Regions from separate parts of the Homo sapiens genome. Here regions 1 and 2 are each linked to region 3. The links come from fine-mapping of genetic effects on plasma protein levels. Region 3 holds a variant in brackets. A gene starts in each other region. All regions are shown on their forward strands.

Region 1 (5,219 bases), not on the chromosome of region 3:
CGAGCAGATCACCTGAGGTTGAGAGTTTGAGACTAGCCTGACCAAACATGGAGAAATCCCATCTCTACCAAAAAAATACAAAATTAGCCGGGCATGGTGGCGCATGCCTGTAATCCCAGCTACTGGGGAGGCTGAGGCAGGAGAATCACTTGAACCTGGGGGAGGTGGAGGTTGCAGGGAGCCGAGATCACACCATTGCACTACAGCCTGGGCAACAAGCGTGAAACTCTGTCAAAAATAAATAAATAAATAATAATCTAAGCTACTTGTGTTATCTTTGGTGTTCTCAATGGTGACTGAAAACAACAATTCAATTTCTCACATTAATAATGAAGCTCAGGTAGGCAAAACGTAGCCCCACGTTTTGAACCATGAAATGGAACACATTCACTGCCTAACAACTTCACTACCCTCTATTTTCTCCAAAATCAGACAGAATCCAGCCCCTGTTTTTACCCACCAACATTCTTCTCTGTTCCTTGAGGTCCTCCTCATTTCTTCCAGGCTCAGCTCAAGGCTTCATCTCTATGAAGCCTTCTCTGACTGACTTCCCTATCCTGTAATAACTGGTATTGAACTACCTGATAATGAGTAAAAATATTGTCTTTAACAGTACTGGGGCATGCCTGATGCATGAGATTCCAAATGATATGAAAAATATAATGAAAACATTGGACCAGGAATCTTTTCCCGTCCCCATCACTCTTCTGGTTTAGTAGGGAGTTTTTTTGTTGTTGTTTTTGAGATGGCATCTCGCTGTCGCGCAGGCTGGAGTGCAGTAGCACGATCTCAGCTCACTACAACCTCTGCCTCCCAGGTTAAAGCGACTCTCGAGCCTCAGCCTCCTGAGTGGCTGGGATTACAGGTGTGCACCACCATGCCCAGCTAATTTTTGTATTTTTCGTAGAGACGGGGTTTCACCATGTTGGCCAGGCTAGTCTCGAACTCCTCACCACAAGTGATCCACCTGCCTCGGCCTCCCAAAGTGCTGGAATTACAGACGTGAGCCACCATGCCCGGCTAATTTTTGTGTTTTTAGTAGAGACAGGATTTCACCATGTTAGTCAGACTGGACTCGAACTCCTGACCTTAGGTGATCCGCCTGCCTTGGCCTCCCAAAGTGCTGGGATTACAGGCGGGAGCCAATGCGCCCAGCCGAGGGTCATTTTTAACTAGCATTGTGATCGATTCAGGTTTAGCTGGGAATCTTGCTCCATGACATTTAAATACATTATCAGAGGCAAGTAACTGCCTCGCCTTAGGGCGGAGTTAGCCAAACTGCTGTCTATCTAACAATCTTCAACACAGGCTAGGTTTACAGCCACCATTACTTGATAAGAACATCCAAAGGAAATTGAAGGATGCTATGCTATATATAACCTTGCAAAATCGATGACAAAAATTATCTTAACTCTGAGTTTTCTTGAGAAGCATATTGTAACCCAAAATTCAGGGCCGGGGGGCGGGGGGAACCAGCAGGGTCCACAAGTACTCTAGACAGCCTAACCTTAATTTTCACAGTAAGCTTAGCATATAAGCATGGGGTAGCCAAATACAATTTCCTACTTTAATCCTCTTATCAACGGGGAAGAAAATGGAAAAAGCTGCAGAATCCAGTCCCCCGGGTAAGTGAGGTCTCTACAAGCAGTAAGCAGAGGGAAAGCGTTATCCGAAAAGAGCCGAATCAGAATGTATTTTCTTACCCACCCTCCCAACCTTAAAAGAACTGTCCAGCAGAATGTGACACAATCGGCCTCTCCGGCGCCCATCAATCCAGCACAGCCCTCTGACCACACCGCTAATCTCCAAGTATCTTTCACAAATAAGTCACTCCTATGGCTCCCGTCTTGTAGTGAGAACTGCTAGCAATATTCTTAATGTGAACACCTGCGGCGTTCAGTCGGATTCTGCCTTGAGAAAACAGAATCCACACACAAGGCGAACAGGCAGAGCATGGCAAGATCAGGTTGTACCAGAGCCGAAGGGTAAGTTTACAGAAACCCGTATCTAATTAATGCCTGTAACACGCTAGTAACCGAATCGGGGACAGCTTTGTCCCTTTCCGCAGTGAGAACGGGGCCCGCCCGGAGCCCGGGGAACCGAAGGTTTAGGAGCCCAAGGTCACCCACGAATCCCAGCCGTTCCCTGGGGCGACTTCCTGGAGCAGCCACGTGTTCCCCCGGCGCCGCACGCCGCGCAGCTGCACCTTGGCTGCGCCCGCGCTCCCGGACCCGCAGCCCGGAGCCGGCGCACTAGGGCCTGCGGCCTTCAAGGGCGAGGACCCGAAGTCCCCGGGGCTGAGAGCGACAGTGGGGGTACACCTGGTCTCGTCATTCGTCGCTCTGTGACCGAGGAGGCGGGCAAGAAGGCAGAGAGAAGGGAAGGGACGAGAGGCGAAGGGACGAGAGGCGCAGGGACGCCTCTGCGCACAGCCGCCGACCCCGTGTACCTGCAGCCGCTCGAGGCGCCGCCACAGCCCCTTCCCCACAGGCTCGCGGCCCCGCTCCATCCCGGCCGCCCCGCCTGGGGCCGCGACCGCTTTCCCGCTCCCCGTGCGGCTCCCTATGGCTGCTGGACAGCACCGGAGCGGCCGCTCCAGCCAGCCCCGCAGGATGAAGGGAGGACACGAGGGTCGGTGTAGTTCTAGAAGCCCGCACTCACACTAGCGCGTCCTCCGTCCCGAGCCGCCACCCGATATCCCGACGCTCTGAGGGGATGGCGGCCCCTAACCGGCGGTTTATAGCCTGGCCCCGCCCCCGGCCCCCAGGGGGGCTGTGCGTCACTTCCTGAGGCACGTACGCTCGCGAGGTGCTCTGACAGATCGCCCGGGGGGCGGGGATGCGCGCGCAGCGGGCGGGGCCCTATGCGGAGGGCGCTGCGGGCGAGGCGAAGGCCAAGGGAAAAGGCGCCAAGGCAGCAGGTGCCCCGAGGAGCCGCGCGATGGGCGCACTGGCCTCTGCCTCGGCGCCTTCCTCCACCCTGGTAGCCTGGCAGCCTCCGCCTGACCTTGACCAACCTCCAGTCCCTGCAGTGCTAGGTCCAATCTGTTGGCGTTGACGCTTAAATGTTGGATATTGCACTGCGGCAGTGCCTTGAAATGTACGTGCAGGATGGAATGTTAGGTAACTATTAAAGCCACTCTTGTGAAGATGTATTTTGCAGCCTCAGAAATACAAAAAGGAAAAGAAAAGCAAAATGCAAATTTTTATTCAGAATGTATACAAGCTGCACTTTAACCAAGACTAGCGGAGTGCTTTGCGTAATGTTTAATGCATGAGGGAATAAAAGGGAAAATAGAAACAAGTGACTTAATAGGGTGATAGGATTGTAGATTAACTTTCGTTTTCATTGCCATCGCTGTTATTGGATTGTGCAATGAATAACAAATAAATAAAATTCAATTCTTGTCACTGTTTAAACTCTTTCCAAACAATCACACCCTCTCCCTCCCTCTGGTCAGTAACCAGCAGGCCAGGGAGGTAGTAGCTACAATGCAAGAAAGCAACCCATACCTTAAAAAGCATTGCACATAAACTGACCTTCAGGCCCGTAGGGACACAGAACAGCCCTTTAAGAAGCAAATCCGTTTCTGGGCCTTGGGCTTTTACTCTTCCCTTTATTTCTTCTGCTCTAAGATAGAGAAAGTACTTGGGATTCTCACCGCCTTTCTCTTTACTCCCATTCTCTAAAATCTCTCTCCCCAAAGAGAAGTGTTTAAAAGTCATATGAGTTGCCAGGCGCGGTGGCTCACGCCTGCAATCCTAACACTTTGGGAGGCCGAGGTGAGCGGATCACGAGGTCTGGAGTTCGAGACCAGCCTGACCAATATGGTGAAACCCCATCTCTACTAAAAAAATTTCAAAAAAAATTAGCCAGGCATAGTGGCACGCGCCTGTAATCCCAGCTACTCAGGAGGCTGAGGCAGAAGAATCGCTTGAACCCAAGAGGCGGAGGTTGCAGTGAGCCAAGATCGCGCCATTGCACTCCAACCTGGGCGACAGAGCAAGATTCCATCTCAAAAAAAAAAAAAAGTCATATGAGCAGGAGCATTGCTGCACCTTTAATGATCTAATCAGGAAAAGGTTAAGGATGCACATCCACAGAGGGCCTACCTTAACATTCAGACACCAGGCCTGCTCCCCTGTGGTGTTCCTTCTTTATTTCTTTAATTATTAATTTTATTTATTTTTATTATTTTTACTTTTAAGACAGTGTCTTGCTCTGTCACCCTGGCTGGAGTACAGTGGCATGATCTCGGGCTCACTGCAACCTCTGCCTCCGGATTCAAGCGATTCTCCTGCCTCAGCCTCCCAAGTAGCTGGGACTACAGGTGTGTGCCACCATGCCAGGCTAATTTTTGTATTTTGAGGAGTGACGGGATTTTATCATGTTGGCCAGGCTTGTCTCGAATTCCTGACCTCAGGTGATCTGCCCACCTTGGCCTCCTAAAATGTTGGGATAACAGGCATGAGCCACCATGCCCAGCCTATTTATTTTTTATTTTTAATTTGACGCAGGGTTTGCTATGTAGCCCAGACTAGTCTTGAACTCCTGGGCTCAAACAATCCTCCTGCCTCCGGTCTCCCAAAGTGCTGGGATTATAGGCATGAGCTAACATGCCTGGCTTTCTGCCTTTCCTTGACTGAAGTATCTTTTAAAAAGAAACAAACAATGCTGGTATTTGCAGGTGAAAATCTTATAGCCTCATGGAGGACATAGGTTTAGGTGGCCAGATGCGATGGCTAATCCCTGTAATCCCAACACTTTGGGAGACTGAGGCAGGTGGATCTTCTGAGGTCAGGAGTTCAAGACCAGCCTGGCCAGCATGATAAAACCCCATCACAACTAAAAATACAAAATTTAGTCTGGCGTGGTGGCGCACACCTGTAGTCCCAGCTACTCCAGAGGCTGAGGCAGGAGAATCGTTTGAACCCGGGAGGGGGGTGGCTGCAGTGAGCTGAGATCACACCACTGCCCTTCAGCCTGGGCAGCAGAGCAAGACTCTGTCTCAAAAAAAAAAAAAAAAAAGAAAGAAAGAAAGAAAAGAAAAGAAAGAAAAATATGTTTAGGAGACATTTAGAGGCCAGGACCATTTGGACATGAAAATTCAAATCTCAAAAATTTATATTCACTAAAATAAAACCATAAACGTGACACTAAAGAGGCTATCAATTATATTTTTATTTTTATGCTGTTATTAGTATTAATAGACACTGCAA
Region 2 (5,190 bases), not on the chromosome of region 3:
TCATCTAATTTTATGCACTCAATTAAAAACAAGCAAATACATACATACATATATGCATAAAGAGTTAGAATGGCTTCCAAGACAGATGGAAACAAATAGTAAATGTATGTTCAATGAATGGATGAGTGAAATGTCTTGCCAAATGATCCCAGTGCATTTGAGGACGGAGATCAAGGAGTTCAAGGACCCATAAGACATGAACTTCGTTGTCCCTTCGTTTTCCTGCCTCCTACAGGAGAGAAATAACTTGGCCTCCTCAATTCTTGTTTGTCTTTAAGAACCTGAGGAGCACTTTGTCTTTGACAACAACAATAGAACAAATGGTATTCGTATATCATTTTTATTGTTTACAAAAGATTATACCCCAGAGCATATCTTGTCCTCAAAATAAATTTGCCAAGTAGATATTCCCATTTTAAAGGTAAGGAAGTGGAAGGGAAGAGAAATGAAGTGTCTTACTCAAGGCCAGTGAACTGATATGTGTTGGAGGGAGTAGGAAATGAGAAGTAAAAATCTTGTGCTCCCACTGCTGGTCTGAGAATTGAATAATTCCCAGTTGTCTAGGAATATTCAAAATTATTGTATACAATGACTTAAAATCCCCCTGGAAGACATGCAGTTTCTAAATGCCTAATTGCCACAACTGAAGTAAATCAGTAGTCATGGTCCAACCTCTATTGGAGAGGAAGGGGGATTTTGAATGATACAATTTATGTTGTTCAACATAGCTCTCTTTTTATCCAATGGCAACCTTTTACAGATGACTTGGAGTTGCAAAAAGTCAAAGATTTGCTTAGGCAAATTCTTTATTCATGACATTGTGCACCCAAGATTTTCTTTCCTCCAGCCAGTCTCTGGAAACACATTTAGGGTATTGTGCTATTTTCATTTTATGACTACAGAAACAGAGTTCAAACGTTCTTAGTCTAAGACTATTCAGCAACTTCTTTCTAAACTAGGAAGGTATGAATCTGAGATCTCCCATTTTCAGAAAGCTTCCATAATCTTTGCATATATCGCATTCCAGCTTTCATAGAGGGGATGTCTGAGTCATTTGCTCATCCGACAAATCGTCATACTTTTGCCAACAAACATTCTTCCTTGGTTTTCTCTCTTCCTGAAGCGTGTAGCAATGTTCCTAGCTCTCAAGAAAGATCTGGAGCAGCTCGGAAGATAAGAGCAATTGAAGAAGAAAGTTACAATTTAGTGGAGTTAATTTTATCGCAGACTTTCAGCACGCTATTCACATGCAAACTTCACACAGAATATTTTTATCACTACCTTATTGGAATAGATTGGTAATTAATAGCTTGTAATCCACCATTGCTAACATGTTTTGACTTATTAAACACTTGGACAAAATAAAAGAAGATCTGTTTTGCCATAAGGGGGAGCTTTTGAGTTCTATAAAGAGGGGGAAAAAAGAAGAAAAAAATATATTACATGTATGTCCCAGTTCAAAAACAGACCTACAAAGCAGCAAATGGTCAGATCCTTACCTGTGACTTTAACAATTTCAGAGGACCTGAATTGCTTAAGTTGAAAACATTAGGCAAATTAATATTTTTCTCTCATTTTCTTCTTATAAAATTAAAATAATTTCTAATGACCAACAGAGTATTTTAAAGAGTATTCGGGGAAATTCAGAGACCCAGTTGTACTAGGACTACAGCTTCTGAAAGGCAGATGTCCTGGACAGTGCCTTTCTTCTATTTTCTTCTGATGATTCCATAAGAACTTTGGAAACATTTGGGTTAGCTGAAGCCAGCCTTATCTGGGGGCTCAGAAAAGAGGGGAATGGTTCATCATCGTACAACTTTAAGGAAATTCTGAGAGGGAAAAGGACAGGGAAAAGAAGAGGGAAAGAGGTAAAGGGAGAGGAAGCGGGAAGAAGAGTAAGGGAGAGAGTGAGAAAAAGAGAAAGAGAGGGAGAGGGAGGGAGGGAGAGACAGAGAGAGAGAATTAAAAAAAAAAATCTAAGAATCAAGTTTCAAGACTCTTTATGTGCTACAGAAAAGGATGAGGTTTACCAGCAAAGTGCAAAGGGGATCCTAAGAGAAGAGACAGATTTTTCTCCTGCCATCAGAAATAATAATAATAAGTGGGGGGAGTGAGGGAGGGAAAAAAAGCAAGCAAAACAAAACAAAAACAGGAATGTGTGTTTTGAGCAGGAATGAGAGCTGGGAGGACCGTAAGGGGGTGTGTACAGAATTTCATTAAATTGTTACTTTAAGATTGTCTCCTTAAAAAAAAAAAAAAAAAAAGAGAGAGAGAGAGAGAGAGAAAAGGAGGGGGTGGTGGAGAAGCGGGAGCGAAGGAAAGGAGGCAAAAGGCAAAGTGAAGGAAAGCTGGATAGCTCGGCCTCTCCAAACTGATTGATTAGTCATGATCCCCGCAGTTTTAACAGGGACTCATTCAATTGGGAAGGTGGAGCGCTGGGGAGCAGATTAGCATACGCTTGTTTACTCATCTTCTGAGGGATTTTTTCCCCCTCTTTCCTTTCATTTTGAGAAGAAGGAGGGAGGGGAGGGGGGACTTGGGGGGGGAGAAGGGGGCTGTGGCTTGTGTTATAAAGGACGCAAAAAATAAATAAATTAGAGCATCTTTTGGGGGGAGGGAATTCAGCGGATCAGTCTTAAGAGGAGCTTTTTTTTGGAGCGAGAAATCATATAAAATAAAATGAAATAAAACAAGGAGGAAGGCAACCAGCTGTTAGGGGAAAAATAAGGCAGATAAAGGAGCGGGGAGAGAAATTAATTGCCAACCAGGAGGAGTTGGGCTGTATTTTTCAAAGGTGGGGAGAGTGGAGCACACACCTTGAGGAGGAAAGCGAGAAAGAAAAGAAAAAAGCAAGTGGAAAGGGGGGCTCGCCCAAGAAGGGTGAAGAAGCGAAGAAAGTCGAGGCGCCGAGGCTCCCAAAGCTGGCAGCTCCGGGTGGCGGTGCAGGGGCGAAGGGGGGGCGGGGGGAACCGTCGGACATGCGGCTCTGGAGTTGGGTGCTGCACCTGGGGCTGCTGAGCGCCGCGCTGGGCTGCGGGCTGGCCGAGCGTCCCCGCCGGGCCCGGAGAGACCCGCGGGCCGGCCGACCCCCGCGCCCCGCCGCCGGCCCGGCCACCTGCGCCACCCGGGCGGCCCGCGGCCGCCGCGCCTCGCCGCCGCCGCCGCCGCCGCCGGGCGGTGCCTGGGAAGCCGTGCGCGTCCCCCGGCGGCGGCAGCAGCGGGAGGCGAGGGGCGCCACCGAGGAGCCGAGCCCGCCGAGCCGGGCGCTCTATTTCAGCGGGCGAGGCGAGCAGCTGCGCCTCCGGGCCGACCTCGAGCTGCCCCGGGACGCGTTCACGCTGCAAGTGTGGCTGCGAGCGGAGGGGGGCCAGAGGTCTCCGGCAGTGATCACAGGTAGGTGAGGGCGCCTCGGCGGGCGCTGCACCGTCCCTGCGGCCCCAGAGGCTCGCGGGTGTCTGGGCGCGGGTGGCGGGCGGGTCGGGGGCTTGCGGGCGTGTCTGTGCGAGAGCTGCCCCGCGAGCGGCGCAGAGACATCCGGGCGAGCTGAGAGCCTCACTTTGCTCCATCGGTGGAATGGGCACACTCGGAAGGCGTAGCTGCTCCATCCCTGGGAGGAACCTGGGGAGCCCTCCTGGCGGCCCCGCGGACCCTCGGCCAGTGAGGGCTGGTTCCCGGAGCCTAGGGCACGTAACCCGTGCTCCGAATGGTCAGATGCACTCTCTCCTTTTGGGATGAAAGGGAGGATGACCCAATTGAGATGCATGTGAAAGGAGACTTGGGGACCGTTGATTTCTTTGACGTTTTAATGGAGGTAACTCCCCTTCATTAGGCCCCATTCCCCTGAAAGCCGGCAAGGGCAAGGTTGTTGTAATGGCCAGGACTTAGAAGTCCTCGAAGTGCCCCAAAGTTGCTCACTGATTGAAGCCTGCCTCTGGGACTCACCCTCACCCCCTCCACGCCATCCCATGTCCTAGCTTTTAAAGCCCATTGCCTGTCACTCGGGGCTGGGACGAGACCTTCCTAACGCATACCCCGCCAGCGTTCCCCAGACGCGGCTGCGAAACGGGGCGCTTTTCTCATATGGGACTTTATGAGCCCGTAATGAATTTGAGTTCTCCCTCCTCAACCTCCCTCTCTCTCCCCTTCGCTGTTCCACAGCAAAGCCTATAGTGAAATCGGACACTTTGCGAGGATTGCAAACCTTAGAAATGCTCCAGCATCCATTTTCCCCCCTCTAAATGAATCTGTGGAAATGCCTTTAATAAAACTGGGGAGCGGAGGTGGGGGCGGCGCTGGAAGAGAGGAGGAAAGTTTTGCCTTTTCTGTCTGGGAGATTCCCTTTCTGCACAAACAATCTTGCCATGTCCTGGGACGTCTTAAAGTGAGAGTAGGGGTTCCCCCTTCACTGCAGCCAGGAAACGTGTGAAGGCGTTTTGCGATCCCACCCCCTCACACACACACTTTCTTAGAAGGGAAAGCTGTGAGCTCTCCGGGCAGTTCTGCTTCTTCCTGTCTTTCCATGGCTTGGACTTTCACAGATGTAGCACTGACTATCCAGTTGACATGAAGACCCCTTTAGGAGACCCACACTCTGCTGCTATCCCAAGAATACGTCTCCCGAAGCCCCCGCTTTCCAGCTATCAAAGGAGAGCGATACAGTGATTCCCCCCAACAACCCACAACTGACGTCATCGCATGCTATTTTTCCTTTTTTTTTTTCCTCCGGGAAGAAGAAGGAGACTGAACTCATTCACTTTTAACTCGCAAGCCCTATTTGCCCAGAGGAGGGTCTAATTTGGAACAGAGGAAACGTTATCCATAATAATAATGACGATGGTGATAATTTAGAGCTGTAGTATGTTGACTTCTCTTTCCAAACATGTGAAAAAGCAAAGAGACTGCTGCTTGGAGGTGATTTTTTTTTTTTTTTAATCTGTAGGTCTGGTTTTTCCTAGTCTTTACCTAGTACCAGTGATTTGGAAGGCATTCCCTGGAGAGAGGAGAGCACAGGGTTATGCAGGCATCATCAGTGAAAGGGTAGTGAATGCATTTTAACTATGTAAGTGTGTCTACATAAATACGTGTGTGTGTGTGTATATATATATATACATGTATATATATGTGTGTATATATATATGTGTATATATATATATGTATATATATATATATAACACCTGGGATTCCACAGGA
Region 3 (5,219 bases):
CGAGGGGCGTCTGGAAACGGTGTCCCAGGCCGAGGGCGCAGTCCCGGAGCCGGGGGCACCCCTCTAATCTGGAGTGATCGCAGGGGTGAGGCAGCAGTCAGCTCAGAGCCTGAGGCCCCATCACATTGGGCCTGCGGCTGCAGAGGGTGGTTATCTTGGAAACTGAGTTCAGAGGTCGCAGGCTCTGGCTGGCCTGACCCTGGGTCGTTGGCGTGGACACCTTGGCTGCCCCTGGCCCTGAGCCTTCCCATGACACCCTTCCCTCCCCTCTCCCAAGCACTGGCCCCAGGCCTGGGTGGGGGCTGCACCCGGGTCCTGCCTGCACCACCAGACCCCAGGCCTGCCTCTCCACGCAAGGCCCTGTGGGCGGAGCCCCTGGACAGGGTTGAGCTTGGGGCCAGAGCCATCTGCAGCCCCCGAGGCCGGCTCCCCTTCCTTCATCCCCAGCTCCCCAACGGCCCCCGTGGCTCCCCCATGACCAGGCTGCCGGCACCCTGGGGCCTGGCTGACCTCCCGCACCCACCCCAGCCCTGGCCATACAGAAGCCGCCTCCTGAACCTGGCCCTGACTTCAGCCTCCACCCCGGGAAAGTCACCTGGGCCTCGAAGTCCCGAAATCGCAGGCAGAGCCGGCACTCACTCACTCCCTTGTACTTCCATTTATTGAGCACAAGCTATGTGCCAGCCCTGTGATAGACAGGGGGATGCAGCGTGAGGAAAACAGACCTCCTCCAGAGCAGCCGCGGAGGAGAAGAGAGCAGTCGTGGGGGCCGCGCAGCGGGTGGGAGACGCAGGCCAGGGCAGAGGAAGCCGGGTACAGAGGCCTGGGGTGGGGCCGGCCCAGCTGACTTTGGGAGCAGCGAAGGGGCCAGGGGGCAGGCAGGACCGCGCACGTGGACAGGGCGGAGCCTGGTGCCTAGCAGGCTGGACACGGAGCAGGTCTGCGTGCAGTGTGGGGGACCCCACCTGGGTGGCCCCTGAATCCCGCTGGCTGGGTGGAGGACGGCTCAGGGGCAGACAGAGGGAGATCTGAGAAAGGGCTTGGCTGAAGTGGGCAGTGTCCCCATTCACAGATGGGAAACTGAGGCCAGGAGAGGTGAGGTAGCCACCCCACCCCCATGCTGGGGAGGGGCCGAGTGGGCACAGAGCCCACAGGCCTGCCTCCCAGGGAAGGGCCCAGGCCCACCCATCCAGCCTCTCCGGGTCCAGCCCCCAAGTCCCGTGGGCTCCCCGGCCCCTCCTCGGCCCCATGCCAGCAGAGGGTGAGCGGACAGTGGATGCCCCATGAGGAGCGCAGCCGGAGCCCTGGGTCTCCAGCCATCCTGGTGGTTGGGGGGCGGGGGCCGGGCCTGGCTGCCTGCCGTGCTGCCCTCTGGCCTCACCACCTTCCGGGAGAGGCTATCTGTGGCCAGGGCAGCCTATCTCGGCCGCAGGCGCTAATCAAGCTGGCTTCCTCCTCCGCCCTCCCACCCGGCTTCCTGCCCCGGCCATCCCCCACCACCAGCCCCCACCCAGGCCCCGCCGTTGCCCTACCGGCCCCTCCCAGACATCTCGGGGGCAGGCCCACCAGAGTCACCTGGGCGAGCCCCTGGAGCCCCGGCTACTGCCCAGAAGCTTCCCTCCTTGCCCCTCCTGGGCCTGCCGCATGGCCGGGGACACAGCCAGCTCCCCCCATGAGCTGGTGGCCTCGTCAGGAAGACGGCCACAGGGCGCTCTTGGGAGGACCCTTGGGACAGTGGGCAGGCGCTGGGCAAGCCACAAGCGTGTCGCTGGCAGCTGCTGCCCCAGCTGCCCTTGTTCCCACCACTACACCCGTGTCACCACCAGCGTGGGCACCGTGACTGTCACTAGCACAGAAACAGCGCTATTAGAGAGTGCTGCTGCTGGCCTGGCCGCTGTCACCTTGCTGGTGCTGTCGCTGTCACTCTGGGTCATTCTGTCACCTTGCTAGGACTGTTGCTGCCAGCAGTGCTGTTGCCGTTACTGGCACCAACCCTCCCGCTGGCACAACGGCAGACTCAGCTTCCAGGTGTCACCTCTCTCACCGCAGACCTGGGGCCTGTTGTGCCCTGTTCTGGGCTCAGGGTCCTCATCTGTGAGACGTGGACAGGACAGTTCAGGCTCCCTGGGGCTGCTGGGGCAGGGCAGGGCCCACAGTTTCTCTTTCCCAGCAAGTCTGCGTGGTCAGCTCGGATCTTGGCCACCCTGGGCTGAGCCAGGTCCTGGGCACAGTGCTGGGTCCCTAGACGGCACCTCGGTGTCCTCACCTGACCGACAGGTACAG[C/T]GGGCCCTCCCTGTGGGGGTGCAGCCTTGGCTGGGGATATGTCAGGGTCTCTAAGGCTGGCCCCTCCCCACACTGGCCTGACTTCTCCACCTCCTCCTGCCCAGGAGGGAAACTGAGACACCACTGCTGGTGATGGAGGTAGCGGTCATGGATGCGGGGGCCCTCCCGCAGGTGCTGGTGATGATGGAGATAGCAGACATGGATGCGGGGGCCATCCCGCAGGTGCTGGTGATGATGGAGATAGCAGACATGGGTGCGGGGGCCCTCCCGCAGGTGCTGGTGATGATGGAGATAGCGGGTGTGGGTGCATGGGCTCTCCCGCAGGTACTGGTGATGATGGAGATAGTGGGCCTGGGTGCGGGGGCCCTCCCGCAGGTGCTGGTGATGATGGAGATAGCAGACATGGGTGCGGGGCCCTCCCGCAGGTGCTGGTGATGATGGAGATAGCAGACATGGGTGCGGGGCCCTCCCGCAGGTGCTGGTGATGATGGAGATAGCAGACATGGATGCGGGGGCCATCCCGCAGGTGCTGGTGATGATAGAGATAGCAGACATGGGTGCGTGGGCCCTCCCGCAGGTGCTGGTGATGATAGAGATAGCAGACATGGGTGCGTGGGCCATCCCGCAGGTGCTGGTGATGATGGAGATAGCGGGTGTGGGTGCATGGGCTCTCCCGCAGGTACTGGTGATGATGGAGATAGTGGGCCTGGGTGCGTGGGCCATCGCGCAGGTGCTGGTGATGATAGAGATAGCGGGTGTGGGTGCAGGGCCTCTCCCGCAGGTGCTCTTGATGATGGAGGTAACGGGTGTGGGTGCCGGGCCCTCCCGCTGGTGCTGATGATAATGGAGATAGCGGGCATGGGTGCAGGGCCCTGCCGCTGGTGCTGGTGATGGAGGTAGTGGGCGTGGGTGCAGGGCCCTCCTGCCACTGCTGTTTGCCATGGGATCAACCCCAGCCCGCGAGGGGGCTCCTGGGCCGATGAGCAAACTGAGGCCCAGTGAGTTCACGTGGTTCATCCGAGGTGGAGACCAGGCCGGTGAGCCCTGACCTCCTGACCCCAGCCCTGCAAACGCCCCAACCCATGGTTTAACACTCCTAGTAGCTCCTCCACCCCCGACGCGGCTCCACCCGCCCCCCCCCATTTATTTATTTATTTATTTATTTATTTATTTATTTATTTATTTATCTCTCCTCCTTCTCTGCGTGTAACTTTTTATTTCCTCACTGCGCTTTTCCATTACAGCGGCCGTGGACGCAGCTGATAAGATCGGTCCCCGGAGATGGGACAAAGGGGCCGCCATCGGCTCGAGGGCTGGTCATATCCTGCCCGAAAGGGCCGAGCAGGGCCTGAGATGCGGCAAGATGCTATCTCGGGTTTATTGCGTCTCGTGAGGGTGCCTCCCACCCCGGCCCCCCGCCCTCTCCCGCCCTGCCCAGGGGCCCGGGCGCCGGGCACTCAGGACCCACCTCTGCCCCATAGGCCTGACGCCTCTGTGCTTGCCCCTCCATGTCCCCCAACCCCGTCCCTGTGCCCTGTGGGCCGCCCGGGGCCATGGACAGGGTCTTTGGCCCCAGGTTCCCATCTGGATCCACCCTGGAGTCACTGTAGGTCTTGGGCTTGTCCCCAGCCTCCCAGAGCCCCACTGTCCCTTCCCGTCCAGTGCTGCTGGAGGCAGTGGCCTTGGTGACCCCCCCTAGCCGAGGGTCCCCACCTCGCAGGTCGGAGCCACCCGGTCCGGGCTGCCCCAGCGCCAGCAGCTGCTGCTTCCCTTGACTCAGCAGTTGGCTCCTGGGAATTTATCCCAGAAAAATCATCCCGGCATGGGCGGGCTCAGGTCAGCATGTCAAAGATGGCAAGCCATTTATTTTTTTAAATTTTTGCTGTCTTGCCACGTTTCTTCCAGAGAAGGATGTTCTAAGGGCAGCAGAGGCCACGTGGATGCCCGTTTGTGGGTCTCTGCACACACGGTGGCCGGACGGCAGATCCGGGGCTGCCCTCAGAGCGCTCGCCACCCCCACCCGCCTTTAGCTGTCGTTCCTCCAACCCCACCAGCCATGAAGGCCCCTCAGGGCTGGAAGGCTGTGTGCGGTCTCTTCGGCAGGTGGGAGGTGGCAGGGGCGCTGCTCCGCGGGGCAGGGTGGGTGGATGAGCACGGCGCCCCTGGGACAGGAACCCCCACTGTAGCACAGTGCTTGATTCAGGGGCCAGTGGGGACCCCCGTGGGTCCTGAGCAGCGGCACAGGGGAGGGAGCTGTGTCTGGGGGGCCACGGTTCCTGAGTGGAGGGATCTGTGTCTGGGGAGGGGCCCACGGTTCCTGAGTGGAGGGATCTGTGTCTGGGGGGCCCACGGTTCCTGAGTGGAGGGATCTGTGTCTGGGGAGGGGCCCACGGTTCCTGAGTGGAGGGATCTGTGTCTGGGGGGCCCACGGTTCCTGAGTGGAGGGATCTGTGTCTGGGGGGCCACGGTTCCTGAGTGCAGGGATCTGTGTCTGGGGGGCCCACGGTTCCGGAGTGGAGGGATCTGTGTCTGGGGGGCCCACGGTTCCTGAGTGGAGGGATCTGTGTCTGGGGAGGGGCCGGCCTGTTCTGCCTCCAGGGCTCCTCCTGCTTCCTGGTCTTTCCCACCCTCTGCCTGGCCTGCATCTGACTCACAGCCAGCTGCCTCTCTGTGGAGCCAGGTCCTCTCTGACCTCGGTCTTCTCATCTGTGTTGGGGTGATCGGTGCCATGGCAGCACCCTCTGTGGCTTCCCATAAAATCACACGTGACTTTTAGAAGAGGAGACACATTCACAGTTCACGGAAGCACCTTCTGCCTCCGGGACTCACATGGGGCTGGGCTCACCCCGGGGCACAGGCCCTGTACCCCAGTTAGCGCCTCGGGCTGCCAGGCAGATCTTGGGCTCCCGAGGCCTCAGTCTCCCCCTGGTTAGCAC

Which allele goes with the higher level. Positions count from the first base shown, and alleles are read on the strand shown. Strength reflects both the effect of a copy and how common the allele is.
As copies of C replace T in region 3, the plasma level of the protein whose gene starts at base 2,709 in region 1 goes down (weak association).
For the plasma level of the protein whose gene starts at base 2,597 in region 2, C is the low allele of the variant in region 3 and T is the other (weak association).

The links. PIP is the chance, under the fine-mapping model, that this variant and not a neighbour inherited with it causes the effect. Protein levels are from antibody-based Olink assays in UK Biobank. Linkage for the fine-mapping came from a reference panel and not from the study's own genotypes, which makes the PIPs less certain.
Region 1: it holds the start of TFRC, and the variant in region 3 is fine-mapped to the plasma level of the TFRC protein (UK Biobank, PIP 0.92).
Region 2: it holds the start of PAPPA, and the variant in region 3 is fine-mapped to the plasma level of the PAPPA protein (UK Biobank, PIP 0.98).

What each region holds. Positions count from the first base shown.
Region 1 is chr3:196,079,382-196,084,600 of GRCh38, forward strand. It overlaps TFRC (transferrin receptor), which reads right to left and starts at 2,709. Exons shown (of 19, transcript NM_001128148.3): 1 at 2,662-2,709. RefSeq lists an enhancer at 961-1,460 and silencers at 2,342-2,641, 2,692-3,031.
Region 2 is chr9:116,151,195-116,156,384 of GRCh38, forward strand. It overlaps PAPPA (pappalysin 1), which reads left to right and starts at 2,597. Exons shown (of 22, transcript NM_002581.5): 1 at 2,597-3,393. The coding sequence starts at 2,979. RefSeq lists a silencer at 4,374-4,463.
Region 3 is chr16:88,498,642-88,503,860 of GRCh38, forward strand. All of the region lies in intron 3 of ZFPM1 (zinc finger protein, FOG family member 1), which reads left to right. Among named protein-coding and RNA genes, the nearest start is that of ZFPM1-AS1, 30 kb to the right of the region's middle. The variant C/T (reference allele first, on the strand shown) is at 2,284.